Regions from separate parts of the Homo sapiens genome. Here all the other regions are linked to region 5. Evidence: fine-mapped expression QTL. A gene starts in region 5. Each other region holds a variant in brackets. All regions are shown on one strand. Distances are between the middles of the regions. Region 1 overlaps SEC31B (SEC31 homolog B, COPII component). Region 2 overlaps WNT8B (Wnt family member 8B). Region 3 overlaps WNT8B (Wnt family member 8B). Region 4 has its middle 38 kb from the start of OLMALINC. Region 5 holds the start of SEC31B (SEC31 homolog B, COPII component).

Region 1 (6,183 bases), 27 kb before region 5:
AAAGATGCATTGACCTTGTTCCTCTGGAGGTTTCCCCTGGGGGCTGGGGCTTCTTTCCAGGAATCTTGAGGTCCTATAGAATAAAAAGATAGAGGTTTTTCGGCGCATAGTGAAAAACACTGGAAGTTTTTTATCTGAAGGCTGGAAGCATTCTTTGAGTTGGAGTTCACCATACCTCCCTCTGCAGACCATCTACACTCCCAGCCACCCTCCACCCAACAGGGCCCTAGCCCTCTGACTTGAGGAAAGACTCCCAAAGTAGTGAGAGGAGCAGGGGAGGCAATAACCCAGAAGAGGGATCCATGGAAGGAAGACTGACCTGGGTGAGGAGTCAAGATGCCAGTGGTTGGGAGGACACTAGAGCATGGGGCACCTGGGTCCCCTGGAAGGTATGGCACAGGGAAGCTTGCAGGAGGGGCTGGGGTGTGGGAGACCATGCGGCCGGGACCTAGTGGTCTCAGAGGAAGCAGAGGGAACAGTCTAGGAGTCTCAGGCAGGGAGGTAGAGCCAGGTCGCATGATGCCTGGGCATGCCATGGGTAGAGGGGAACCAGGAAGAGGCCATGTCCCAGGGAATCCCACCGGGTTAGGAACTTGCACCCTTTGCCCTCCTAATAGCTGTGGCTGAGATGAAGCTGAAGCAGAACAGAAATAGGTCATTTGTCACTAAACTTCATTTCAGGAGCAACTCAGAGCATATCAGGGAGAAACAGGATTGCAATAAAAAAATAATAAATGATTAATACATGTATATGGAAATCTATAATTTACAAAATACTTTTAACTATATTCCTTATTTGACCTTCAAAACAATCCCATAGCATTGAAATAAGCAACACAACACTTTGGTATATTGCCAAAGGTACGAAGCCAGTGATAGCATTAGGAATTCAGACTTCAACTTCCAAGCTCCTCTCACTAGACAGACATACAGCTTCCCAAATCCATGCTGGCCATGCCAATTGCTTTCCTGAGACCTCTGTGCTCTGCCCAGATAGATCTTCAGTGACTCACTCACCAGGCCTTACCCCAGGGCTCAAAGGCAAAGGCTGGATGGCCTGGGGCCCAGGTGCCCTGTAGTCACTTATATTCTGTGTCCTGGGACCCTGATAAGGGCTAGGATGGGAAGGTGCCAAGGGCATCGCTGGTGATGACTGAGGGGTGAAAACCCTTGGCCTTGGAGATGGAGTTGGGACCTATGAAGAGAAAAAAACATCAGCTCTTGGAAAGGAAAGAGAAAGGTAAATAATAGAAAACAGAAAAATAATAGGGAAAATTAATGAAACAAAAACTAGTTCTTTGAGGAAAAAAATCAATAAAATTGATAAACATCTAAAAACTGATAAAGATAAAAAGCAAGAAGATATAAATCATCATCAGAGATGAAACAGGGACTATTACAACAGACCCTGAAGCCATTAAAAATATAAACGAATACTACAGAAAACTTTACATTCATAAATCTGACAACTTATCAGAAATGGACCCATTCCTCAAGAACCATAAACTACCAAAACTCAGTCACAATGAAAGAAGATCTGGATAGTCCTATAACCATTAAAGAAATTGAGTTTGTAATTTAAAAGCTCCCAAAAAAGAAATCTCCAGGCCTAGATGGTTTCACTGGAGAATTTCACCAGTCAAAGAATTAATGCAAAGTTTATGTAATCTCTTCCAGAAAATAGAAGGAACACTTCCTAACTAATTTCATGAGGCCAGTATTACCCTGATGCCAGCAACAGAAAAAGATAGCAGAAAATAAAACTACACATCAATATTTCTCATGAACTTAGACACAAAAATCCTCAACAAAATTTTAGCAAATCAAATAATGTATATAAAAAATAATATTCCACAAGAAAGTGGGATTGATTCCAGGTCATACAAAGCTGATCCAAGATATTTAAAAACCAATCAATTTAATCCCCTATACCAACAAACTAAAGAATGAAAATAACATGATGACAGAAATGATGCAGAAAAAACATTTGACAAAATTCAACACCGATTCATGATCTAGTACACAAGGTGTTATGGTCTGAATATGCTCCCCAAAGTCATGTGTTGAAAACTGAATCCTCAATGCAACAGTGTTGGGAAAGTGGGACTTTTTGTAAGTGTTTAGGTCATGAGGGCTCTGCCCTCATTAATGGATTAATGCCACTACAAAAATGACTTGCAGGAGTGGGTTTGCTTTCTCTTGCACATCTGCTATCTGCCATGTGAGAACACAGCAGCAAGGCACCATCTTGCAACTAGAGGGTGGAACCGTACCTGCTGGAACCATACCTGCTGGTGCCTTGATCTTGGACTCCAGAACCATAAGAAATAAATTTCTGTTCTTTATAAATTTCCCAGTCTGTGGTATTCTGTTATAGTGGCACAAAATGGATTAAGACACAAGGAATAGAGGGAAATGTCCTTGGTCTCATAAAGAGCATCTGTGAAAAACCTAAAGCTAACATCATGCTTAATGCTGAAATATTGAATGTTTTTCCTCTAAGACTGGAAACAAGGCAA[G/GA]AACATTCATGTTCACTATTTATTTATTTTTTTTGAGACAGAGTTTCGCTCTTGGTGCCCAGGCTGGAGTGCAATGGCACAATCTCAGCTCACTGCAACCTCCACCTCCCGGGTTCAAGCGACTCTCCAGCCTTGCCTCCTGAGTAGCTGGGATTACAGGCATGCGCCACCATGCCCGGTTAATTTTATATTTTTAGTAGAGATGGGGTCTCACCATGTTGGCCAGGCTGGTCTCAACTCCTGACCTTAGGTGATCCACCCACCTCAGTTTCCCAAAGTGCTGGGATTACAGGTATGAGCCACAGCGCCTGGCTTATGTTCACTATTCTTATTTAACAGAGACTGGAAGTCCTAGTCACTACAATAAGGCATAAGAAAGAAATTAAATGCATATAGATTGAAAAGAAAGAAAACTATCTATTTGCAGATTTGTAGACAGCATGACTGTCTATTAGAAAACCCCATGGAATCCACAAAAAACTTCTATAACTATTCAGGAAAGTCACAGGATATAACCAGATCAACACATAAAAATCAACTGCATTTCTATATACTCACAATGAACAAGTGGAAACCAAGAAATTTGATTTTAAACTGCTGAAGAAAAAAATTAAATACTTAGTAGGCATGAGCTGACAGGTGATATAAAAAATTAAATACTTAAGTATGAATTGGACAAAATATGTACAGGATTGGTGTGACAAAAATTATAAAACGCTGATGGAGAAACATGCCACATTCATGGACTGAAAGACTGAACCTAGTAAAGATGTCAGTTAGGAACTTGTATTTGAATACTCATAGCAGCTTTACTCATAATACCCCAAATTGGAAACTATCCGAATGTCCTTCAAAGTTTGAATGGCTAAAAAAATTAAAACTGGGGCCGGGCGCGGTGGCTCATGCCTATAATCCCAGCGCTTTGGGAGGCCGAGGCGGGCGGATCACGAGGTCGGGAGATCAAGACCATCCTGGCTAACATGGTGAAACCCCATCTCCACTAAAAATACAAAAAATTATCCGGGCGTGGTGGCGGGCGCCTGTAGTACAAGCTACTCGGGAGGCTGAGGCAGGAGAATGGCGTGAACCTGGGAGGCAGAGCTTGCAGTGAGCCAAGATCGCGCCACTGCACTCCAGCCTGGGCAACAAAGCAAGACTCCATCTCAAAAAAAAAAAAAATTAAAACCATGGTACATTCACACCATGGAATACTACTCTGCAATAAGAATGAGTGAACTACTGGTACACAGAACAACTTGAATGAACCTCAAAGAAGTTATGCTAAGGGAGAAAAGCCAATCTCAAAAGGATACATATTGCCATGATTCTATTTAAGTAACAATCGTTAAATAACAATGATAGAGCTGGAGAACATATTGGTGAAGCCAAGGATGAGGGAGGCAGAATAAGTGCAGCTATAAAAGAGGTAACACAAGAGAGTCTTGTGGTGATGGTAAAATTGAGTATCTTGATTTTGGTGGTGGTTACACACCACAATGTGACAAAACTGCATAAACACACATAAACACACACCTAACAATATGTAAAACTGGTGGAGACTGAATCTGAAATCTGAATCCATGGATTGTACTAATGGCAATTTCTTGGTTTTGATAGCGTACTGTGGTTGTGTGAGATGCCGACACGGGGCGGGGTGTTGTTGGGATGCAGGAGACATCCCAGTACATTTCTTTGCCACCTCCTGTGAATCTATGGTTATTTTTAAATGAAAAGAGACGGGGAGAGGGAGAGAGAGAGGAGAGGAGGGGAAGGGGAAAAGGGGAGACAAGGGAGGGAAGAAAGGGAGGGAGGAAAGGGAGGGAAAAAAAGAAAAGGAATTAGGGTGGGGATTGAAGGTGGGACAAGATGAGCCATCAGAGCTTCTGCCTGGTAACTGTATCCAAATCTCCCTGGATTCTGTTCTCCGGCAGCTCTAGCAAGCTTCTGGCCTCACATCTTAACAGTATCCAATCCCCCCGGGCACTTTGGCCAGAACCTCTTTCCTCTCCCTCAGTACCCCCAACCACACACACACCTCTCCAAACTATCAGCAATTCTGTCAGTTCTATCTACTAAGTACTAAGTATTTCAAATCCAACCTCACTGGCTAGCTTTAGTTATTTCATGTCTTCATCATCCCTTACTATAGCCTAACTCCCTCCAGCCTGGCCCTTCCTAACATACAGCTAATTATGTCACTCTTCCTAAAACTGTTCAATAGCTCCTCCCTGTCAAGTTTAAGTTCTTTAGCACAGAATGCTAGGTCCTTAGTGATCTAACTCCTACCTGTTGTTCCAGCTTCATCTAACTTCACAGCCACAAACACCTGTGTTGCAGCCCCAATTAAATAATAGTAATTCTCAAAAGGCTTCGGCTTACTCTTGCTTCAGTGCCTTTGTACATGCTATTCTCTGTGCCTGAAACAGTCTTCACTTGCTCATCCCTTTGCCTAAAACCTTTTAATCTTTGAAACTCTGATCAAACATCCGACTTGTTCTGAAACACTCCCTGGACTGCCCCCACAACCTCACCATACAGAGTAAACTACTTTCATCTGTGTGATCTTATAGCCCCTTGCCATACCCCAATCATGGTATTTATGAATTTTACTGTAGCTATTTTTTTTTTTTTTTTTTTGAGACGGAGTCTCGCTCCGTTGCCAGGCTGGAGTGCAGTGGTATGATCTGGGCTCACTTCAACCTCCACCTCCCAGGTTCAAGTGATACTCCTGCCTCAGCCTCCCGAGTAGCTGGGACTACAGGCACGTGCCACCATGCCCAGATCATTATTTTGTATTTTCAGTAGAGATGGGGTTTCACCATGTTGGCTAGGATGGTCTCGAACTCCAAACCTCATGATCTGCCCGCTTTGGCCTCCCAAAGTGCTGGGATTACAGGCGTGAGCCACCACGCCAGGCCTACTGTAGCTATTTTTTACATATCTATCTTTCGACTACACTATGAGCTACTTGAGGGCAAGTATCACAATTTTTGCACCTTTATGTCCTAAGAGCCTAGTAGTTCAATAAACAGTTATTTATTATAAAAAGAACTGAATCTATGTTCTATGGAAGTTGGGAATTTTCATCAGTTTTGTTCACAATATATTCCAAGTGCCCAGAACCATGCTTGGCACGTATTATTGAATGAACAAATGAATGAACAAACGAGGTCTTACCTGGTGAGAAGGCTGGGATCCCAATCTGTAAGATGATGTCTCTTTAGAGTGGAGGGTAGCTCCCACAACAATCCGGGGGAAGGGGAAAGGGGGAGACTGTTGGCCCAAGACAGCAGAACCTTGAGCATGAAAAAGCCGATCTCTTAGCTGCTGAACTGGTGGCTATAAGTTTTAATGAGGAAGAGCTGTGTCAAGAAATTAAAACAATCAAGGCCCCAGGTAGCAGTCAAATTTCAGCTGACCCTCTACACCAAGCTTGTCCAACCTGTGTTATTTTGTTGTTGTTGTTGTTCTGTTCTGTTTTGTTTTGTTTTAGGTTTTTAGCAGCCTGAAGCCATGGTTTTTGGTTTGTCTCTAGTGATAAGTGGAAAACCGGGATGAGGAAGGGGCTTTACTGGCCCAACCAGAAACAGAAACTAAGCACCCACGACTGTATTCTGACCCTTGGACACCCCCGCTCTATACTCTAGCCCCCTTAGAGATGACT
Region 2 (6,061 bases), 34 kb before region 5:
GCCCGAGTTCCGCGAGGTGGGCGCGCACCTGAAGGAGAAGTACCACGCAGCACTCAAGGTGGACCTGCTGCAGGGTGCTGGCAACAGCGCGGCCGGCCGCGGCGCCATCGCCGACACCTTTCGCTCCATCTCTACCCGGGAGCTGGTGCACCTGGAGGACTCCCCGGACTACTGCCTGGAGAACAAAACGCTAGGGCTGCTGGGCACCGAAGGCCGAGAGTGCCTAAGGCGCGGGCGGGCCCTGGGTCGCTGGGAACGCCGCAGCTGCCGCCGGCTCTGCGGGGACTGCGGGCTGGCGGTGGAGGAGCGCCGGGCCGAGACCGTGTCCAGCTGCAACTGCAAGTTCCACTGGTGCTGCGCAGTCCGCTGCGAGCAGTGCCGCCGGAGGGTCACCAAGTACTTCTGTAGCCGCGCAGAGCGGCCGCGGGGGGGCGCTGCGCACAAACCCGGGAGAAAACCCTAAGGGTTTCCTCTGCCCCCTCCTTTTCCCACTGGTTCTTGGCTTCCTTTAGAGACCCCGGTAATTGTGGAACCTAGGGAATGGGGAACCCGCTCTCCCAGACCTAGGGATCCTGAGAGGGAGAGACTGCAATTTCTCCAAAGCTTGCCACTTTCCAGCCTGTTTCCCCAATTCCTCTGTGCTCTCCTAGAGCTCTGTCTGAATCCTCGCAGCCACACCTAGGTCTGAGAACTCAGGCTTTGAGTTACTGATCTTCCTTGGATTAGGAGAACAGGTGTTCCTCCTCCCCTCTCCTAGCAGCCCTAATGTCTGACCTAGCCTATCAAGCCTTAGGCGCTGGAAGAACCCTTCTCAGACACGCAGGACCCAGGTAAAGTCAAAGCTTTGCCCTTTTGCCCACTGTCTGCTACCAGGGCTCACCCACTGCTGCACCTCTCTTCTGCACAGCTCCTCCCCTGCTACCTGCTGAGCCAGATTCCCCAGGAATCTTGAATGCTTTCTCTCCTCTTCTCCCTTTCCTTTCCCAGAAAAACTGAGGAAACTGGCCCCGGAAAAGCATGTCTTTGGGGTTGGTTCCTAGAGGCAGAGGTTGAAGATGGAAGAGGGAGCTCTGGAGTGCTAACTTGAACACCAAGGGTGCTACTCATCCCTATGGTATCATATCATGAATGGACTTTACTAGTGGGGCAATGACTTTCCTAGACAATAACCCGAGGGACTCCAGATACATACCCCGAAGGTCTAGGAAATACGTTAAGGGCAGATTACAGTCATTTCCTACCCTTTAAAGGTAACTTCTCCCTTCTCCTGACCTACTTCCTCCTAGCAACCAACTTTACCTCTTCTTCTCCAAAGGATCTTTGTTCCTCTGAGCCAAGACTGAGGTAAATAAAGCCACTTTCCTCTTCAGATCCTGGTCTGCACCTCTAGAGGCAGGTCCTAAGAAGGAGAAACTGAGACCCTTCCTTCTCACTAACCTGGTTCTCAAACAGGCAGGATTCAGAGCACTGGATATCTTCCTTCAATGAGTAAACTTCCTGCAATGAAACTGTTGCTTAGTAGGAAGTTCAGCACCTTGAACCTTAATTTATTGCAGTCATTGTGATATGTGCTCTTTTTCTAGGTACTGCACTTATTCTTGAGGATATTCGGGTGGGCTGTGGTAACAGATACAACCTGTAGGCTCTCTCCTCCCTCCCATCTTGGCAGGATACCATCCTCCCTAAAGCCTCACTTCCCTGGTGGCCCAAGCAGTTATCTGGATTGAGGCTAAGCTGCCAAGGATTAGTAAATCATCTATTTAAATCTTCTAATACATTCACTCAAGAGCCATGAGCTTGCTGCTTGTGGTACTTGAGTCTTCTGGTTTTATTCTCAGAGAGTACAGCAGGGACTTGTTTATGAAACAGAGCAAGACCTTGGGGAGGGAAGAACCAATCCCTGACAGACCCTCTGTAGCCCAAGGGGCTTCCCAGCCAGCTTCCTTGCCCTAGGACAGTCCCAGGTCTGGGGCTGGGCAGCTCTTCTAGAGCAGAACTGGTCAGATGCTAGACGACCTCAACCTTCCTCTCCCAGAGTAGGAAAAGCAGTGTGGCTGGCTCCAGGCAACAAAAGCCAAGACTCTAGGGGTTCACCTGTAAGAGTCAAGGGTTCCCGTATTCCAAACTAAGGCAATGGCCAGGTCAGATCCCAAACCCTTGGCCTCACCCACACACCTTCTGGTCTTACCAACACTTACTGAGGAGAGAGTTTCCCCTTCCTGACCGGGGATACACTTCCTTTCAGGTGTTCTTAGTGCTTCATTTCCAGCTTTCTCAGCAAAAGGCCCTTCACGCCTTCCCTCTGCTTTTATCTGAACCTCCTGAATCTCCCAACTCACCTTTTCTCCTTAATCAAGAAGCAGCATATACTAACCTACCTGTCCCACTTTGCAGAATTACTTTATAATGTACACGAAGAAAGTTTGGCAAGGCAGCTAGAAAATTTAAAAGCACAATGTTGTAAAGTAAAGCTACATTCTCCAGGTCTCTTAGCATAAAAGCAGAACTATTGTGCTTCATATTTGGTAACTCCAGGTCAGCACTCTAAATACGTCATGCCGCCAGAACATTATTTCATAGGTTATTGTTTTATACCCCCAAATGGATACCAGATTCATTCCAGTTCTACCAAGAAAACATGACTGAGATGCCTTGGATCTGTATTGCTTTTCCCTTCCTTTTGCAATATCCACTTGTTCATTTGTTCATTCAACAAACACCAGAGTAGAGATAGTGGTGAACAACCACCATTGCTGCATCACGGAGTTTAAGTTCTCATCTTACACTCAATTGCCAGGGC[C/T]GTGGTCCCTTTACAAAGTAGACAACTCCAGAACTGGTGCTTGGGAAGACATCTTTGAGGTCAGCCAGTCAAACCTTTTGTGTTACAGATTTAAACTGATGCTGAGAAAGATGACTGGCTTCTTCCCCCAACTAGTAAGTTACTGTGGGGAGAGTGCAGAGCACAGGCCCCTTCCACCTCTTGTGTGCTCTTCAGGAGCCCATCTGTCTCAGCCAGAAGACAGAAACAGAGGGAGGCCCTGAGAAGTGACAAGGACATTGGTTGGGGTGGGCAAAACACTGTCTCCTTCCTGTCCCTGGCCTGTGAGCCTAAACACAGGCAGAGCTTTTTCTTTTTGAAAAGAATCGCAGCCTCAACTGGCCTTAGCAGCAGGTTAGGGCAAAGACAGAGACGGGGTCGTCTTCGGCGCTGGTGGTGCTGGCGGTGGTGGGAGGGGAGGGCAGGCCAGGGCACTCGCCTATTGTAGGTCTGGATTGGATGCTTCCACTCATTCATTTCCTTTTAATTAACCCGCATTCCTGGAGGAGAAATATTTATGTTGGCTCCCATAGAGGCAATCCTCAGACTGGAAAGAAGGGGGAAGAAAGCCTGTCTTAGCAAAACAATATCTCTAAAGAGCTCAAGAAGAGAAAATAGGAGAACAAAATGCCATTAAAATAGCCTTCTACCCCCACTGGAGTCAATGAAAACTTCATTTCACATGCTAATCCGCCACTCCGCCCCCTTGTCTTCTCACAACACCTTTTCCGAAAGTGTTTGGGAAAAGTCTTCGCAGTCAGTACACAGCTCCCTGCAGCTCAGACTTCTCCTTGTGTTAGTTCAGGGCCCCAAGTGGGGCTCTCGCTCCAGCAGCGGCTTTTTTCTCCCCCACTTTAATTTAAACAAAGACTTCGGAGTTCATCAACCTCCCACTGAAATTCACAGCTGCTGAACAAACTAATCCCCTCTCCCGGCCTTTCTTCCCTTCAATGGGCTCTTGGCTTCAAAGACACTTTGGGAAAGGACTTTGCTAGGGCTCACACTGCTTCATCAATAGAAGTTAGTGCAAGTATTATCTGAAGAGCAAGTGGCTTTACAAACAAATACTGCCTAACAATCCCTCCCTCCCAAACACACACACATCTAGCCCGCAGACATGATGGGATCTACAACAGGATTAGGGCTAGCATCCCCTGGCTTCACACCCAGTCCCTTTGTATAGCTGAGCTCAGCCCTGAAGTGGGGTAGGGAAAACCCTGGAACTGAACACCAGGCACGGATGAAGGGAGACAATCCCCCCACCCTCAACACACCCAGCAGAGTGACCACAAATGCTGCAAGGAGAGAACCTAATTCAGTGGGAATGGACACCTTCCTTTAACTTTCTTGATTTATCTCTCCCTAAGCCTCTCCCCTGCCTTACTAGGGTGCAGGAAGCAAGAATAAAGAGGACTAGAAAGGTAATGGCAAAATAGAACCCAGAGGAGGCAATGACTGGGAGATGACAGAGGAAACCAAATCGAAGCAGCTTTATTGCACCATTAAGTACATCACTGCATCAAAGACAGTGCCACAAATGCAAATCCAATCGGAGAAGGTAGCCCTGAGACATGTGGTGGCTGCGAGGGAGAAGGACCCCCAACCCTTGAGGAGCAGCGCTGGAAGAGAATCATTCCTTAATATGGCTCCAATTCCAGAACTGGGCTTTATCATCACAGAAGGAATGGCCTTGGGCTAAGGCTCCAACATAGGTGGAGTCAAGGGCAGTTCCCCATAGGCTGTGGTTCCCCTGCTCCTGTCTCACAGCCTAAGACAGCTTCCAGCAAAAGGCAGTTCATCCCTTTCACCTTCCATCCAACCTAGCCCACCCTTAATAATGCCGGCAGATGAGAAATTCCATTTTAACAGCGCCAAAGTTTCCTCTCTTGGTTCTGCTCAGCACCCATCCCTCACGTCCATGAGTTGTTCAAAGGGTGAACAGCAGTCAGCTCTACCCCAGACCCTGGGCTACAGAGAAATACGGACCTGGAAATACCAAGTCAGAGGCAGGGAAAAGGTAAGGGCAGGCTCATAAACCACAGAAGGGAGAAACAAAAGACCCACATGATGGGTCACAGCAGAGGTAGGCTTAAAAGTAACAATCCTGTTCACCCTCTCAGAAGCCACTTAAATAGAAGATCCCTGGGGGAGAAGATATCCTGCCCCAGGTCCTTACAGAGTGTAGTATTAGGGAGAGTGAAGAACTGATTCTATGCCCTGCCTCCAGGCCTGAGAGTGTCTTGGACAGATCCTAGAAGGCCAGACATAAAGGAGTAAAAAGCAGGCACTCAGCTGGTTTGGAGCCAAGCCTACAGCATCACATACCTGGCAGCAAGGAAAAGAGTCGGGAAAAAGAAACAGAATCTGTTGCAGAAGTCCCCTCTTCTGCAGGGAGGAGTTATGTAACAGCAGAAGTGGCCTCCTAGCAAGAGAGGCTGCCTGGTTTAGACCAGCAGCTTATGAGCGATGATGAGGACAGCCTTCAGGATAGGCATGAAGCTGGACACCTCGCTGAAGCTGCTACAGCCCGCCACCTGGGCATGCACTGCAAGGCCCTGCTCAAAGCTTCCTGCATCCACACATCGGGCAACCTCATGGAGCCCAGCCACGACATGAGGTGAGAGCTGTGGAGGGAATGACCCTTAGGTTAGTGAGCCCAACCCAGCTCCTACCCTGGCAGCATGGAAGGGATAAGGGAAGACTTAAGTTCTGGGGCCCAGTCCAGGCAAGATGCACGTATTTTGTGGGGAACCCAGGTCAGTGACACCTATGGGAAGAAAAGACACTGGGCTTCCTTTGGCCATGGTGATGGTGGAAGTGTAGGAGGCAGTGGGAGCACAGCTAGCTGTACTTACTGTCCCCTCACAGAGCTTCTCATATAGATACTCCAGACGCTGGGCTGCCTCTTCCAGCTTCCTTTTTGTCTTCTGCAGGGAAAGAAATGGATTCCAACCCCAGCCCCTAAGTCTAACACCACACAGGGCCATAAAGAATCACAGCATATTAGGCCGGGCATGGTGGCTCACGCCTGTAATCCCAGCACCTTGGGAGGCCAAGGCGGGTGGATCATGAGGTCAGGAGATGGAGACCATCCTGGCTGACACGGTGAAACCCCGTCTCCATTAAAAATACAAAAAATTAGCCGGGTATGGAGGTGGGCACCTGTAGTCCCAGCTACTCGGGAGGCTGAGGCGGGAGAATGGCTTGAACCCGGGAGGCAGAGCTTGCAGTGAGCCGAGATCG
Region 3 (5,000 bases), 42 kb before region 5:
AAATTAGCTGGGTGTGGTGGCACACGCCTGTAATCCCAGCTACTCAGGAGGCTGAGACAGGAGAATTGCTTGAACTCGGGAGGCGGAGGCTGCAGTGAGCCGAGATCATGCCACTGCACTCCAATCTGGGCAAGACAGAGCAAGACTCCGTCTCAAAAAACAAACAAACAGAAAAACACAAGTCCCGGGAGGTGGAGTCTGCAGTGAGCCGACATCACACCACTGTACTCAAGCCTGAGCAAGATACAGTGAGACTCTGTCTCCAAAAACAAAACAAAACAAACAACAAAAAAAACAAAAACACAAGTCACTTTATAGGAATGTTGTCCAAATAAGGCCTATAGTGTTGTTCCATGACAGGTGCTCAATTAAGTCTCATTCATTGATCAGTTGGGCTTGACCTGGATATCATACAAATCTTTGCATATTGTAGGATCTTCCAGGAAAGAATTCTCTAGAATCTCTGTCTATTACTCCCTGTAGTTCCGGCTTAGACTCCTTTCACAGGAAGACTCTTCACCCCAGCTATGGCAAAGCATTTTCTTTGTCACTCAATTTGCTTTGTTGTTTTGTTTTCTTTCCTGATAATTTCTGTCTTATGGAAAATGGGAACTAGCTCTGTCAGGCTTGGTAATGTCCAAAATCTTTGAATGTTATTCCTAACATAAAAAGTGCCTTTCTGAGTGGGAACAAGCTCAGGCCCCTTTCCCCAAAGCAAAGGGGCCTGGCTGACTCCTCTGACATGTCTTTAAGGATCAGAAATTCATGTCCAAACCTATAATGGCTTTGGAAATTGTGAATTCATTTAAGTCATTCTGAATTGTATTTTTGTGTTTTGCTGGTGCTACTACACCTGATCAAGCAGTGCTTCTTTTCAGTTGAATTAAGGTTGCCTACCAAGCTTTAAAAAGTAGGCCTTGGTGGCTGGGCGCGGTGGCTCACGCCTGTAATCCCAGCACTTTGGGAGGCCGAGGAGGGCAGATCACGAGGTCAGGAGATCGAGACCATCCTGGCAAACACAGTGAAACCCCATCTCTACTAAAAATACAAAAAAAAAAAAATCAAAAAAAAATTAGCTGGGCATGGTGGCAGGTGCCTGTAGTCCCAGCTACTCGGGAGGCTGAGGCAGGAGAATGGTGTGAACCTGGGAGGCAGAGGTTGCAGTAAGCCGAGATGGCACCACTCTAGCTTGGGTGACAGAGTGAGACTCCGTCTAAAAAAAAAAATAGGCCTTAGTTTTGATAGACTTCATAGTATTTTTGATTTTCTAAAATTCTATTACAACTCGTTTAGAATCTTTTTCATCTCATATGGCAGCCTCTTAGTTTGTTAATACTGGTTTTCAAAAACTACTCACATTTTTGGTGTTGTATGTGTTTTTTATGAAGAAAGTCAGCCAAGCTCTTTTGGCCTGACAAGAAACTTTCTTGGTCTATTTCATTTCCAATCCCCTTTCTGGTGATGTTCAGCATCTTATTGGCCTTCAGAATTGCAGGGGTACACCAGCATGGAACAATACATAATGATTCCCGTATTACTTTCTCACATTATAATGGAAAAACAAAGATAATAGATAATAGATTCTGATTTTCAAATGCCTATACTGAAGTCATTCTCCAAGTCTTTAGCCCTGCAGATCATGTGTATATGTACATATATATTTAACTTTTTATTTTTAGATAATTATGGAGTTGCAAGACATGTACAGGGAAGAAACGTACAGGGAAGTCCCATGTACACTTGCCCCAACCTCCCCCAGTGTGAACATCTTACAACGTTAGTACGATATCCATGAAGCTTATTCAGACTTCACCATTTTTACATGCACTTGTGTGTACATGTACTCATGTATGTGGCTTTATGCAATTTTGTCATGTGTAGCCTTGTATAACCACAGTAAAGACATTTGGCCATTCCCCCAAGACTTTCTCATGTTACTCTTTACAGCCACATCCATCCCCCATCCCAAATCCTTGGCAACCACTGATCTGTCCTCCAGCTCTATAATTATATAATTTTTATTATTTCACTATTGTTATGTAAATAGAATCATGCAGTATGTATCCTTCTGAGACTGACTTTAATCACTCCGTAACTTCCTTGAGGTTCATCCAAGTTGTTGCATGTATCAACGTATCATTCCTTTTTATTGCTGAGTAATATTCCATGGTATGAATGTACCACAGTTTTTTATTTTTTATTCATTTATTTATTTATTTTATTTTATTTTTGAGTTGGAGTCTCGGTCTGTTACCCAGGCTGGAGTGCAGTGGCGCGATCTTGGCTCACTGCAAGCTCCATTCCCAGGTTCACGCCATTCTCCTGCCTTAGCCTCCTGAGTAGCTGGAACTACA[A/G]GTGCCCACCACCACGCCTGGCTAATTTTTTGTATTTTTAGTAGAGACAGGGTTTCACCATGTTAGCCAGGATGGTCTCGATCTCCTGACCTCATGATCTGCCTGCCTTGGCCTCCCAAAGTGCTAGGATTACAGGCGTGAGCCACCGCACCCGGCCACAGTTTTTTAAACTACCCTTTGAAGGACATTGGGTAGTTTCCAATTTTTGACTATTATTAATAAAGTGGCTATGAGCATCCAGGTACAAATTTCTGAGTGAAAGTAAGTCTTTATTTCTCTGGGATAAATGCCCAAGAGTGCAATTGCTAAGTCATATGACAAGTTCATTTTTAGTTTTTTTTTGTTTTTTTTTTGGGACAGAATATCACTCTGTTGCTCAGGCTGGAGTGCAGTGGTGCAATCTCAGCTCATTGCAGCCTCTGCCTCCCAGGTTCAAGCGATTCTTGTGCCTCAGCCACCTGAGTAGCTGGCATTACAGGCGCATACCACCATGCCTAGCTATTTTTTTTTTTTTTTTTTAGTAGAGACGGGGTTTTGCCATGATGATGCCTAGGCTGGTCTTGAACTCCTGGATTCAGGTGATCCACCTGCCTCAGCCTCCCAAAGTGCTGGGATTATGGGCGTGAGCCACTGTGCCCAGCCCATTTTTAGTTTTAAAAGGGGCAGCCAAACCATTTTTCCAAATCGCATTACTTATTTTTAGAGTTTTATTATGACTCAATCCCTAGAGAGATATTCCACTGTTTGTTTACCTCTTCCTAATTAGAGAAGTATCCTTCTAACGTCCCACGGAGTCAGATGAATGTGGATTCAAATCCTGCTTCACTCACTTATTAGCTGGGTGAGCCTGAACACACGTTTAACTTTTCTGGAGTCTCAGATTTCCTGTCTGCAAAATAGAGATAATAATGCCTGAGACAGTAAGGATTTAACAAGATCAACATGTAAAATACCGAGAGTAGAGCATAAGGAACATAGTCAGGAGTTAATGCTAGTTCTCTCCCCCACTTCATGGCAGAATAATCAGCAACCATCACTATCAGGTATATGGTACTGGAAATTTTACCTGGCTTTAACAATGCAAGGAAATGATACTACTTTTATTCATGTTTTTTCTACTAAGTTTTATGTGTGTGTGTGTTTTTTTTTTTTTGTTTTGAAACAGAATTTTGCTCTGCCGCCCAGGCTGGAGTGCAGTGGCGCAATCTCGGCTCACTGCAACCTCCACCTCCCAGGTTCAAGTGATTCTCATGCCTCAGCCTCCTGAGTAGCTGGGACTACAGGCGCCTGCCACCATGCCCCGCTAATTTTTGTATTTTTAGCAGAGACGGGGTTTCACTATGTTTGGCCATGCTGGTCTCAAACTCCCGACCTCAAGTGATCCACCTGCTTCAGCCTCCCAAAGTGCTGGGAATACAGGCATGAGCCACCCCACCTGGCTGTAAATCATCTTTAGTAGGTTTGTTATGCACAGTGTTTCCTGGGTAAAACTAGTTTCCCTTTCTTCCTATTAATGACATGTGCTGAAGTAATTCTTACCACTCTTGGAAGCAGAAACAAGTTGGTGTCTCTGCATTATATTCTGTTTTTGTTTTTTTTTTCCCTTATAGGTCGGTGAACAATTTCCTGATGACTGGTCCAAAGGTAAGAACAAATTCCATTAATTGATATGGATTTCACTAATCTTAGCCTGTTGACTAAAGATGATAAATGCAGATTTTTCATTATATCCACATATTTTATTATGCTGTATACATTACAGATAGAAAGATTGAGACCCAGAGGGTGTTAGGGACACATCTAAAACCACATAGCAAACCACTGTCAGCGCCAAGATAAGAACGCAGGAGCACTGAATTTATGGCTAGAATTTCCAGAGCCATAAAAGTCAACAGCCTTTTATAGGTGTCAGGCTGCAAAGTCACACATCCTTCTCAGTGCCCCGTGGTGGGATGCAGTTTCCCATGTTTAAAATGCTGGAATTGTACTACATGATCTTTACATTCATGGGCATTTTCAGTTCCAAAATGTTGTTTTCTAAGATGGTCATGTGATGAGAACTCCTTAAATTTCATGAATTAGGTGATTTGGGCTCATTTTGGAGAGACAGGATAGTATAGTGAAGAAAGGTGAATAAAGGATAATAGGGACTAGAGTCTGATAAAACTGAGTTTCATTTCTAGTTCTGCCATTTGCTAGCTCTGGGACTTTGGGGAAATTACTTTAGCTCACTCCCTGGGCCTCAGTTTCCTAATCTATAATATAGTGCCTATTTCACAAGTTATTTGTGATGTCAAATGAGACAGCATATTTAAAGGCTTACTCCATTATTTTGGAGGGATGGGAGAGTGAGCAGGAAGAGGGCTGTTTGGTCAGTTTAGGGTAAATGCCTCCTAAGTTCAGTCTGAATTTTTACCCCTATGTCCCTACAGGCTTACCTGATTTACTCCAGCAGTGTGGCAGCTGGTGCCCAGAGTGGTATTGAAGAATGCAAGTATCAGTTTGCCTGGGACCGCTGGAACTGCCCTGAGAGAGCCCTGCAGCTGTCCAGCCATGGTGGGCTTCGCAGTGGTAAGAAAAACCTCAGCCACAGCTCCCTGGACCCTCTGGTCACAGGTTAGAGCCCCAGGGATAGCCCCTTGCCTC
Region 4 (6,183 bases), 110 kb before region 5:
AGGAAGAAACTGCATCAACTAACGAGCAAAATAACCAGCTAACATCATAATGACAGGATCAAATTCACACATAATAATATTAACCTTAAATGTAAATGGGCTAAATGCCCCAATTAAAAGACACAGACTGGCAAATTGAATAAAGAGTCAAGACTCATCAGTGTGCTGTATTCAGGAAACCCATCTCACGTGCAGAGACACACATAGGCTCAAAATAAAGGGATGGAGGAAGATCTACCAAGCAAATGGAAAACAAAAAAAGGCAGGGGTTGCAATCCCAGTCTCTGACAAAGCAGACTTTAAACCAACAAAGATCAAAAGAGACAAAGAAGGCCATTACATAATGGTAAAGGGATCAATTCAACAAGAAGAGCTAACTATCCTAAACATATATGCACCCAACACAGGAGCACCCAGATTCATAAAGCAAGTCCTTAGAGACCTACAAAGAGACTTAGACTCCCACACAATAATAATGGGAGACTTTAACACCCCACTGTCAACATTAGACAGATCAACGAGACAGAAAGTTAACAAGGATATCCAGGAATTGAACTCAGCTCTGCACCAAGCATACCTAATAGACATCTACAGAACTCTCCACCCCAAATCAACAGAATATACATTCTTTTCAGCACCACACCACACCTATTCCAAAACTGACCACATAGTTGGAAGTAAAGCACTCCTCAGCAAATGTAAAAGAACAGAAATTATAACAAACTGTCTCTCAGACCACAGTGCAATCAAACTAGAACTCAGGATTAAGAAACTCACTCAAAACCGCTCAAGTACATGGAAACTGAACAACCTGCTCCTGAATGACTACTGGGTATATAACAAAATGAAGGCAGAAATAAAGATGTTATTTGAAACCAATGAGAACAAAGACACAACATACCAGAATCTCTGGGACACATTCAAAGCAGTGTGTAGAGGGAAATTTATAGCACTAAATGCCCACAAGAGAAAGCAGGAAAGATCTAAAATTGACACCCTAACATCACAATTAAAAGAACTAGAGAAGCAAGAGCAAACACATTCAAAAGCTGGCAGAAGGCAACAAATAACTAAGATCAGAGCAGAACTGAAGGAAATAGAGACACAAAAAACCCTTCAAAAAATCAATGAGTCCAGGAGCTGGTTTTTTGAAAAGATCAACAAAATTGATAGACCACTAGCAAGACTAATAAAGAAGAAAAGAGAGAAGAATCAAATAGACGCAATAAAAAAATGATAGAGGGGATATCACCACCGATCCCACAGAAATACAAACTACCATCAGAGAATACTATAAACACCTCTATGCAAATAAACTAGAAAATCTAGAAGAAATGGATAAATTCCTCGACACATACACCCTCCCAAGACTAAACCAGGAAGAAGTTGAATCTCTGAATAGACCAATAACAGGCTCTGAAATTGAGGCAATAATTAATAACTTACCAACCAAAAAGAGTCCAGGACCAGATGGATTCACAGCCAAATTCTACCAGAGATACAAGGAGGAGCTGGTACCATTCCTTCTGAAACTATTCCAATCAATAGAAAAAGAGGGAATCCTCCCTAACTCATTTTATGAGGCCAGCATCATCCTGATACCAAAGCCTGGCAGAGACACAACAAAAAAAGAGAATTTTAGACCAATATCCCTGATGAACATCGATGCAAAAATCCTCAACAAAATACTGGCAAACCAAATCCAGCAGCACATCAAAAAGCTTATCCACCATGATCAAGTGGGCTTCATCCCTGGGATGCAAGGCTGGTTCAAGATACGCAAATCAATAAATATAATCCATCATATAAACAGAACCAACGACAAAAACTACATGATTATCTCAATAGATGCAGAAGACCTTTGACAAAATTCAACAACGCTTCATGCTAAAAACTCTCAATAAATTAGGTATTGATGGGACGTATCTCAAAATAATAAGAGCTATCTATGACAAACCCACAGCCAATATCATACTGAATGGAGAAAAACTGGAAGCATTCCTTTTGAAATCTGGCACAAGACAGGGATGCCCTCTCTCACCACTCCTAGTCAACATAGTGTTGGAAGTTCTGGCCAGGGCAATCAGGCAGGAGAAGGAAATAAAGGGTATTCAATTAGGAAAAGAGGAAGTCAAATTGTCCCTGTTTGCAGATGACATGATTGTATATCTAGAAAACCCCATTGTCTCAGCCCAAAATCTCCTTAAGCTGATAGGCAACTTCAGCAAAGTCTCAGGATACAAAATCAATGTGCGAAAATCACAAGCATTCCTATACGCCAATAACAGACAAACAGAGAGCCAAATCATGAGTGAACTCCCATTCACAACTGCTTCAAAGAGAATAAAATACCTAGGAACCCAACTTACAAGGGAAGTGAAGGACCTCTTCAAGGAGAACTACAAACCACTGCTCAATGACATAAAAGAGGATACAAACAAATGGAAGAAAATTCCATGCTCATGAGTAGGAAGAATCAATATTGTGAAAATGGCCATACTGCCCAAGGTAACTTATAGATTCAATGCCATCCCCATCAAGCTACCATGACTTTCTTCACAGAATTGGAAAAAACTACTTTAAAGTTCATATGGAACCAAAAAAGGGGCCGGATTACCAAGTCAATCCTAAGCCAAAAGCACAAAGCTGGAGGCATCATGCTACCTGACTTCAAACTATACTACAAGGCTACAGTAACCAAAACAGCATGGTACTGGTACCAAAACAGCATGGTACTGGTACCAAAACAGAGATACAGATCAATGGAACAGAACAGAGCCCTCAGCAATAATGCCACATATCTATAACCATGTGATCTTTGACAAACCTGACAAAAACAAGAAATGGGGAAAGGATTCCCTATTTAATAAATGGTGCTGGGAAAACTGGCTAGCCATATGTAGAAAGCTGAAACTGGATCCTTTCCTTACATCTTATACAAAAATTAATTGAAGATGGATTAAAGACTTAAATGTTAGACCTAAAACCATAAAAACCCTAGAAGAAAACCTAGGCAATACTATTTAGGAAAAAGGCATGGGCAAGGACTTCATGTCTAAAACACCAAAAGCAATGGCAACAAAAGCCAAAATTGACAAATGGGATCTAATTAAACTCAAGAGCTTCTGCACACCAAAAGAAACTACCATCAGAGTGAACAGGCAACCTACAGAATGGGAGAAAATTTTTGCAATCTACTCATGTGACAAAGGGCTAATATCCAGAATCTACAATGAACTCAAACAAATTTACAAGAAAAAAACAAAAAACCCCATCAACAAGTGGGCGAAGGATATGAACAGACACTTCTCAAAAGAAGACATTTACACAGCC[G/A]AAAGACACATGACAAAATGCTCATCATCACTGGCCATCAGAGAAATGCAAATCAAAACCACAATGAGATACCATCTCACACCAGTTAGAATGGTGATCATTAAAAAGTCAGGAAACAACAGGTGCTGGAGAGGATGTGGAGAAATAGGAACACTTCTACACTGTTGGTGGGACTGTAAACTAGTTCAACCATTGTGGAAGTCAGTGTGGCAATTCCTCAGGGATCTAGAACTAGAAATGCCATTCGACTCAGCCATCCCATTACTGGGTATATACCCAAAGGATTATAAATCATGCTGCTATAAAGACACACGCACACGTATGTTTATTGCAGCACTATTCACAATAGCAAAGACTTGGAACCAACCCAAATGTCCAACAATGATAGATTGGACTAAGAAAATGTGGCACATATACACCATGGAATATTATGCAGCCATAAAAAATCATGAGTTCATGTCCTTTGTAGGGACATGGATGAAGCTGGAAACCGTTATTCTCAGCAAACTATTGCAAGGACAAAAAACCAAACACCACATGTTCTCACTCATAGGTGGGAATTGAACAATGAGAACACATGGACACAGGAAAGGGAACATCACACACCCGGGCCTGTTGTGGGGTGGGGGGAGGGGGGAGGGATAGCATTAGGAGAAATACCTAATGTAAATGACGAGTTAATGGGTGCAGCACACCAACATGGCACATGTATACATATGTAACAAACCTGCATGTTATGCACATGTACCCTAGAACTTAAAGTATAATAATAATAATAATAATAAAGAAATCTCTATTTCTTTCTCCCCAGCCTGGTAATTAAATGAATAATTCAATAAAAGGAAAATATATTGGTCAAGCTTTTTGTGACGTCAGTAAAAGGCATACTTTCCAACCTTTTGTATTCATCCAAACAAAGCTAATGCACTTTTAAAAATCCTATACTTGTTTTTTTTCAGACCATCTCGCTCTGTCGCCCAGGCTGGAGTGCAGTGGTGCAACCTCGGCTTACTGCAACCTCCGCCTCCTGGGTTCAAGTGACTCTCATGCCTCAGCCTCCTGAGTAGCTGGGATTACAGGCACCTGCCACCATGCCAGGTTTGTTTGTATTTTTAGTAGAGACAGGGTTTCACTATGTTGGCCAGGCTGGTCTCAAACTCCTGACCTCAAGTGATCCGCCCGCCTCAACCTCTCAAAGTGTTGGGATTACAGACATGAGCCACTGCGTCCGGCCTAAAAATCCTATATTTGCAATCTATGTGACCACAACTGATTTAAACCCAGATGAAGATAAGGTATCAAAATAAACCTCAGGCAGACTGAGCTGTGCCACAATTTTAACACTAACTGATGAAGGCAGGATGCTTCTCCTGCTCAGCTGAGCATCCTGTCTCCCAAACTCAAAAAACTAAAATCCTGGAATCTTAGAACTGGAAGTGACCCTTGTCTTTGTGACTGTCCTTGAGCTCTGCTACCCATGAGTTTTGCCTCCAAAATTGTCCCTTTTATATGAAGTAGGACTCTGCGCAGCCAGAATTTTTTGTGTTACCTCTTTGTAATCAGATAGGGCACAACTGGCTGAGATTGTTGTCAGTATGTGGGTGTGGCTGGAAAAAAATACCCTCTGTGACCAATAGTTCTTTCTTCACTGTACACAGCTTTCATACTGTTTCTCATGAATAAAACATATTCACATGACATTTTGTACTTTTCCTTCGTTATTCAGTTTATGCAGATAGCCATTTCCTTTGGATAGTAAGAGAAGTGTCAGCTCTGTGTGGTAAACGATTGAGAAAAAAAGAGTCATGAAGAAGCTACAGAACTTGCTTAAGAGCACATGGTGGGACCCTCTTAGAAATGGGAAGAAAAGGCAGGGAAGAAAAGACCTGAGGTCAGGAGTTCAAGACCAGCCTGGACAACATGGTGAAACCCTGTCTCTACTAAAAATACAAAAAAAATTCTTTTTTGGGGCGTGGTGGCACGTGCCTGTAACCCCAGCTACTCGGGAGGCTGAGGTATGAGAATCACTTGAACCCAGGAGGCAGAGGTTACAGTGAGATCGTGCCATTGCACCCCAGCCTAGGCGATGAGTAAACTCCATCTCAAAAAAGCAAAACAAACCAAAACAAAACAAAAAAAGAAATGGGAAGAAAGCAAAAGTCCTGGCCAGGCATGGTAGGTCACACCTATAATACCAGCACTTTGAAGGACTGAGGCAGGAGGATCACTTGAGCACAGGAATTCAAGACCAGCCTGGGCAACATAGAGAGAACCCATCTCTAAATACATAAAACTTTTTTTTTTTTTTTGAGATAGAGTCTTGCTTTTGTTGCCCAGGATGGAGTGCAGTGGCGTGATCTCGGCTCACTGCAACCTCTGCCTCCCAGGTTCAAGCGATTCTCCTGTCTCAGCCTCTCGAGTACCTGGGACTACAGGCACACGCCACCACGCCCAGCTATTTTTTTATTTTTAGTAGAGATGAGGTTTCACCACATTGGCCAGGATGGTCTCAATCTCTTGATCTCATGATCCTCCTGCCTCGGCCTCCCAAACTGCTGGGATTATAGGTGTGAGCCACCGCACCCAGCCCATAAAACATTTTTTAAAAACAAAAGCAAGAAAGAAAAAAGCAAAAGTCCTGGACTCTGGGTCTATAAACTAATTTGCTTTCTTCCTAAAAAGTCTGTTTACGTTCCAAGACAGAAGAAATTCCCAATAGCTTTCTTTTTGTGGAGCAAATAAATGGAAGATGGAAGGAGGGAAGATAGGAGAAAAAGAAAGAAGGGAGGAAAGGAGAGACAGAATCAGATTAGTTTCAATTCAGACTTTTCACAAAAATACAAATTTTGG
Region 5 (6,183 bases):
AAAAAAAAGACGTACCTAACCTTGAGCCATAGTCCTAGGCAGCCCTCAGGTACCCAAAACACCTAATATCTCCTTGCTTATGCTGTGAGCCACCCTATCTTTCTATGATCTGAGAGCTTTCTCTGATGTTCAATAAATAATTCTAGATACTAAGTTTCCCCTCAACTTATGTACTCCCAGTGGATCCTAATTCACAGTGTCACCATACCTGTGGCCAGATACAAAGGGTATTGGCTGGCTGGGCTCCATGCCTGGACAGCTGGCCGCTCAAGTTCCTTCAGCTTCATGGTCTATCCTGTAGGTGGCAGAAAACTGACATGGCCCTCAGCCCACTGAAAATAGAAACCAGCAAACTTAACAGCCAGATCCAGGGAGCATCTGCGGACAAGAGTTCTTGTTTGTCTTTCTCCATCACAAGATAGGGCATTTCAGGGCAACACAGAGTGACAAATACATGACCATCTGCAGATCTAAAGATAGTTCATTCACCCAATTACTGAAATGTAATGCTTTAAACCTCAAATGATACTCAACCACAATGGCTACCACAGGTCCAGTGGTGATAACCATCAAACCAGACAATCTCTCAGTGATGTTTGTCCATTTCCTTGGCTTTAAATAGCACCCATATGCTGATGATCCCCAAATTTATATCACCATCACAAATCTCTCCTCTAAGCTCCAAGTTCTTATATGCAATTTCTTTTCGTTTTTTAGACCAAGTCTTGCTCTGTCACCCAGGCTGGAGTGCAGTGACACGATCTCAGCTCACTGCAACCCCTGCCTCCTGGGTTCAAGTGATTCTCCTGCCTCAGCCTCCCGAGTGGCTGGGATAACAGGCATGTGCCACCATGCCTGGCTAATTTTTGTATTTTTAGTAGAGACGTAGTTTTACCGTGTTGGCCAGGCTGGTCTCGAACTCCTGACCTCAAGTGATCAGCTGCTTATACGCAATTTCCAATCAAATATTTCACTTGGATATAGTAGATACTTAATGGGGGAGGGAACTCCCATTTTAGTCTGTCTAAAATGGAGTTCTCTATTCTACCATCTTTTATGGTCTTTTTTTATTTGTTTTTTTCAGAAAGGAGCAAAGTCACAATCTCTTCTGTTCTTCCTCCAGTTTTTTTCATCTTGGTAAATGGTTCCACTATCCACCCAATTGCTCAACCCAGAAGCCTGAAAATCCCTCTTGATCCCTCCTTCTCCCTCATTCTCTTCTAATCCATCATTTAGTCTCCTTGATTTAACCTCCAAAATATATCTCAATCTGTCTACTTTTCTCTATTTTCGCTGCCAACAGCCTTTTTGATTGTATCATCTCTCACCTGGAGTACTCCAACAACCTCCCAACTAGCTATCCCCTTTCTACTCAAGCCATTACCCAATTCGTTCTTTACACAGCAGCAGGAGTGAACTTCTAAAATAAAAAATGATTTTGGCATTCCATGCTTAAAATCTTTCAATGATTTCTATCACACACAGAATAAAATTCAAACTTCTTTGAGCCCTGCCCAAAGGCTCCAGCCTACCACTTCAACTTCATCTTTTAATACTTTTCTCATTCATTGTGCTTCAGCCACACTAGCCTTTAATTTCCTGACATTTTCCTTCCTTAGAGCCTTTACAAATGCTGTTCCCTATACTTTGAATGCTCTTCCCTTCACTTTCGACATGACTGGCTCCTTATATCTTTCTGGGCTCAGCTTACTTCCCCAAATAAGTGAACTACCCAATCACAAAAAGCCTCAGTTTTTTTCTTCCTAGTAATTTATAATTACATATTTATTTATATTGACATTGTCAGTCTCTTCCACTAATATGCAAGCTCCATGAGAGCTGACACTGTGTCGGCTTTTGTTCACCATGTTGTAACTAGTTTCCAAACGAATGTCTGGCATATGGTAAAAGCTCGAATGTGGACATCCATTTTAACTCTGTGGTTTCTGATCTAATTCCAATGTATATTCAAGGTCCCATCCCAACAGGCTAGCAAACAGGTAGAAATGATTTTTAAAAATTACACTGAACTTGAGGAGAAAGCTTGGGACCTACTGTGACCTGCTTGAGTAAGCTATAGTCAGATCAGTCTCACCTACAAAAACAGGAGATAGTATTACTTAATCTCTAAGGTACTTTCTAGCGTGAAGAAAGTTTAAGCCTGCCCATTAAGCCAAGATTTCCAAAGCACCTTTAAACACTTGTGGCTACTATCACGTATTCTGTGACCAGCTCAACACTCTACTATACAGTCACCAGTGCCACCTGCTGGTCACAGCCATTTTAATGTTTCTGGGAAAAGATTCCCTAACAACAAAAATAGGAGCTGCGATAAGCAGCTGTGCATTTGATGTGCATATCTCAGTTAATTCTCTCAGTGGTCTTATCAGGTAAGTACTATGATTATCCCCATTTTCTAGAGATGACAACTGGCTAGGCCGGGATGTGAACCCCCATCAGCATCAAGAGCCCGTATTTCTAACCACTGTACTAGTCGCAAGTAAACCCTAGAAAGTGTTTTAATCGCTGACAGTCTAGGAACTGGGAAAATGGGCTCTTAATTCACATTGTTAAGAGGCATCTATTCACAAAAAAAGGGCCCCCGCTGGGGTCAGATTGGCCATGGGGGCGTGAGGGGGAGATGACCAATGAAATGCTCGACAGACCTGCCGTGCAGGAGGGCACCAGCTACCCTTGGCAGTCCAGTCCCTAGGGAGGACGGTCAGCACAGCCTCTTTCCCGCTGTCGCCGAAGCGCGGCGCGCCAGGGTCAGCAATGACAGACCTTCCCGCCCAGCCCAAACGCAGCGACACCGGACGGCCTCGGCTGGGCCAGGTCAGGACCAAGGCGGATGGGAAGGCGCAAGGCAGCAGTGAACAGGGAGACCCTCATCCGGCTGGGGGTTCCCGTGCGGCAGGGACAGTAGAGCCGGATCCAATTCAAGGGTAGACGTAGTGGAGGCCCCCGAGGCCCGGACCCGCGGGCAGGGCAGGCGCGGGCCGGGGGCTCCGCAGCAAGCGGGCTCCCCTCCGCGCTCTGCCGAGAAAGGAGCAGTGCTCCGGGTCCCCAGCGCAATCTCTGCTACCAGGGACCCCAGACCGGCGGGGCGAACCAACCTGTGCGGAAGACCCCGGACAAGGGTCAGGCGCGGCGGCCGGAGCCGCTCCTCTGGCAGGGCTCTCGCGCGGAGCCGGGCGCTGTGGACGGCGGCTGCGGAGGACCAAAGCGGCGCGGACCCCGGCAGGGCACCGTCGGAAACACGCTCCGCGGGCGCCGAGCCCGAGACACTGACAGACCCACGGAGAACGTTTCCAAACAGGATTATAGCTTTTAACCGGGCCTCCCTCACCTACCCTGTGATTGCGCAGCGGGTCAGATCTGGACCAGTAAGTTCTGGTCTATTCAGTTTGAGCCAGGCTCTAGGGCCAGTCTCTGAAAAGGGAAAATACTAACTCATTATCTATGTATTGAAGCGGGAGAAGACCCGGCCCTGGCCCCAGGAGCCCTCAGTGGAATCCATTTAGTTGAAAACGTAAAAAGCAATCGAGGCTGTAAATGGCAGTGAGTGTTGCACTGCAGCCCAGCAGAAACTGGTGCCCAAAACTTGGTTGAATTAAGGGCTATAAGTGTATGGAGGGTGAGACTACAGGGCCAGGGGCTTCCTGAAATATTTGAGGAACATAGGAGGGGTGTTATCCTCTGGAGCTGCAAGAACACAGGTGATATTCCAGCCGATAATGTATTTTTTATGTTGAAGAAATTGTGCCACTTCCAAATAAAAATGTTCTGTAGACAGGTCGGGTGCAGTGGCTCACACCTGTAATCCCAGCACTTTGGGAGGCCAAGGTGGGCATATCACCAAAGGTCAGGAGTTCGAGACCAGCCTGGCCAACATGGTGAAACTCCGTCGCTACCAAAAATATAAAAATTAGCCGGGCATGGTGGTGCAGGCCTGTAGTCCCAGCTACTCACGAGGCTGAGGCATGAGAATAGCTTGAACCCGGGAGGTGGAGGTTGCAGTGAGCTGAGATCACGCCACTGCACTCCAGCCTGGGTGACAGAGACTCCATCTCAAAAAAAAAAAAAAAATTCTGTAGGCAGCTTTAAATCTTAGAAACTTATGCTTAACGCATGAATTCTCTGTATTCCTGCCTGATACACCTCCAAAGATGGGGGGCCAGTTATCATGATGGAGCCCAACTCATTGTGACACGACTCCAGTTCCCTTCCATGTGGATCTGGCAATTTTGAAGTTAGACAGAAGGTAATTCAGTGCATTATCTGTGCCTAGCCCACGCTTCCTACCTACTAAGTACTCAAGTATTTCCTGAACTTCTTAGCTGGCACAACAGGGAATGAAGCCTGAGGAAAAGTAAACAGGGTTAAAAACTAAACCTGAGAGAAGGAGGCAGAAGAGTTACTGATGGAATACTCCTAAAGAAATTTGAACCAGAAGCTTAAGTCACAGTTTCGGGTAGGACATGATTAAGCCAAATTAAAAGTGCACTTTCTCAACTCACACCTCTTAAGAATTCTTGCTGGGAGCAGTGGCTCATGCCTGTAATCCTAGCACTTTGGGAGGCTGAGGCGGGCAGATCACTCGAGGTCAGGAGTTCAAGACCAGCCTGACCAATATGGTGAAACTACATCTCTACCAAAAAATACCGAAAAAATTGGCTGGGCGTGGTGGCATGTGCCTGTAATCCCAGCTACTCGGGAGGCTGAGGCATGAGAATCACTTGAACCTGGGAGGCAGAGGTTGCAGTGAGCTGAGATCATGCCACTGCACTCCAGCCTGGGTGACAGAGTGAGACCATGTCTCAAAAAAAAAAAAAAAAAATTCTTTTTGGCCTGGCATAGTGGCCCACACCCATAATCCCAACACTTTGGGAGACCAAGGCAGGTGGATTGCTTGAGCCCACAAGTTTAAGACCAGCCTGGGCAACATGGTGAAACCCTGTCTCTACAAAAAATACAAAAATTAGCCAGGTGTGTTGGTGCATCCCTGTGGTCCCAGCTGCTTGGGAGGCTACAGTGAGAGGACCGCTTGGGCCTGGGAGGTAGAGGCTGCAGTGAGCTGTGATCACACCACTACACTGCAGCCTGGGCAACAGCGTGAGACCCTGTCTCAATAGTAATAATGATAAAGAATTATTTTCACTTTGTATTATAACTGCTGGTCTCCTATGTAATATTTGAAGGTGATTACTTTGTCTTGCTCAGTTTTATATCTCCAGGGCTTATCAGTGTTTGATACATATTAGACACACAGGTGTTTGTTAAGGAAATGATTATCAAATGCTATAGAGAATGAAGACAGATAAAAAGCCAGTGGGGACCTTCAAAGAATAGCATTCCACAAGTATCCACTCCCTGACCTCACAAAAGGTCTCTCACTGCCTGCACAACTAAGACTCCACATCTAATTTGAATGAACTTGCTTCTTTTGGTCACATAAAATGTATGCTTTTCTATGGGACAGGTTTTCCGGCAATATACTGTAACTTAAGAATATGTCCCCAAAGGAATATGGGTTGGTTCACTTAAAAATAGACATGAGGGCTGGGTACAGTGGCTCCTGCCTGTATTCCCAGTGCTTTAGGAAGCTGAGGCAGGATTGCTTGAGGCCAGGAGTTTGAGCCAGCCTGGGCAACATAGCAAGATCCCACCTCAACAAAAAATAAGAAACTTAGGTTCGTACATCCCAGTAATCCTAGCTACTAGGGAGGTTGAGTAAGGAGGATCCCTTGAGCCCAGGGGTTTGAGGCTACAGAGAGCTATGATTGTGCTACTGCACTTCCACCTGGGGAACAGAGGAAGATCCTATCTCTAAATAAAACAAAAAACAGATGAATGATAGACTCTCAAAAACATAGTTTTTCTCTAAGACTGTTATAGGAGTGTGGATGAGTCATCAAAAGTAATCAAAGCTATGAACATGTTCAGTAGTAACTCACTGACTGTCCTCCAATTCATAAATACAGGTAATGTCAACTTATTAAGAAGCTATGATTCAGAAGCTGCTTTGGAATAAGGAATATTCTTATAACGGAAATAAGATCAGAGGCAGTCGCAGCCTTAGGCAGACAGGACAAAAACACTTATCAGTCCTGTAATATACTTGAAACACGTTAGAGCACATTTTTTTCCAAGTAACCACTATTATTAAGGAGTTTTTTTTGT

What was found. PIP is the estimated chance that this variant, and not a neighbour inherited with it, causes the effect. A credible set is the group of variants that fine-mapping cannot tell apart.
Region 1: its variant is the best candidate, but not a certain one, in a credible set for the expression of SEC31B in whole blood (TOPMed, PIP 0.77).
Region 2: its variant is the best candidate, but not a certain one, in a credible set for the expression of SEC31B in blood mononuclear cells (TOPMed, PIP 0.63).
Region 3: its variant is the best candidate, but not a certain one, in a credible set for the expression of SEC31B in tibial artery (GTEx, PIP 0.63).
Region 4: its variant is the best candidate, but not a certain one, in a credible set for the expression of SEC31B in blood mononuclear cells (TOPMed, PIP 0.67).

The regions. Positions count from the first base shown.
Region 1 is chr10:100,489,689-100,495,871 of GRCh38, forward strand. SEC31B (SEC31 homolog B, COPII component) reads right to left here. Exons shown (of 26, transcript NM_015490.4): 19 at 5,697-5,858; 20 at 1,018-1,195; 21 at 320-634; 22 at 15-73. Among named protein-coding and RNA genes, the nearest start is that of SEC31B, 27 kb to the right of the region's middle. The variant G/GA (reference allele first, on the strand shown) is at 2,520.
Region 2 is chr10:100,482,354-100,488,414 of GRCh38, forward strand. It overlaps WNT8B (Wnt family member 8B), which reads left to right. Exons shown (of 6, transcript NM_003393.4): 6 at 1-1,391. The coding sequence ends at 463. It overlaps SEC31B (SEC31 homolog B, COPII component), which reads right to left. Exons shown (of 26, transcript NM_015490.4): 25 at 5,674-5,745; 26 at 4,294-5,442. The coding sequence ends at 5,263. Among named protein-coding and RNA genes, the nearest start is that of WNT8B, 22 kb to the left of the region's middle. RefSeq lists enhancers at 1-586, 2,607-3,383, 2,732-4,224, 3,384-4,159. The variant C/T (reference allele first, on the strand shown) is at 2,801.
Region 3 is chr10:100,475,088-100,480,087 of GRCh38, forward strand. It overlaps WNT8B (Wnt family member 8B), which reads left to right. Exons shown (of 6, transcript NM_003393.4): 2 at 3,965-3,998; 3 at 4,787-4,925. Among named protein-coding and RNA genes, the nearest start is that of WNT8B, 15 kb to the left of the region's middle. The variant A/G (reference allele first, on the strand shown) is at 2,355.
Region 4 is chr10:100,408,389-100,414,571 of GRCh38, forward strand. No RefSeq gene overlaps it. Among named protein-coding and RNA genes, the nearest start is that of OLMALINC, 38 kb to the left of the region's middle. The variant G/A (reference allele first, on the strand shown) is at 3,334.
Region 5 is chr10:100,516,666-100,522,848 of GRCh38, forward strand. It overlaps SEC31B (SEC31 homolog B, COPII component), which reads right to left and starts at 3,196. Exons shown (of 26, transcript NM_015490.4): 1 at 3,117-3,196; 2 at 209-332. The coding sequence starts at 287.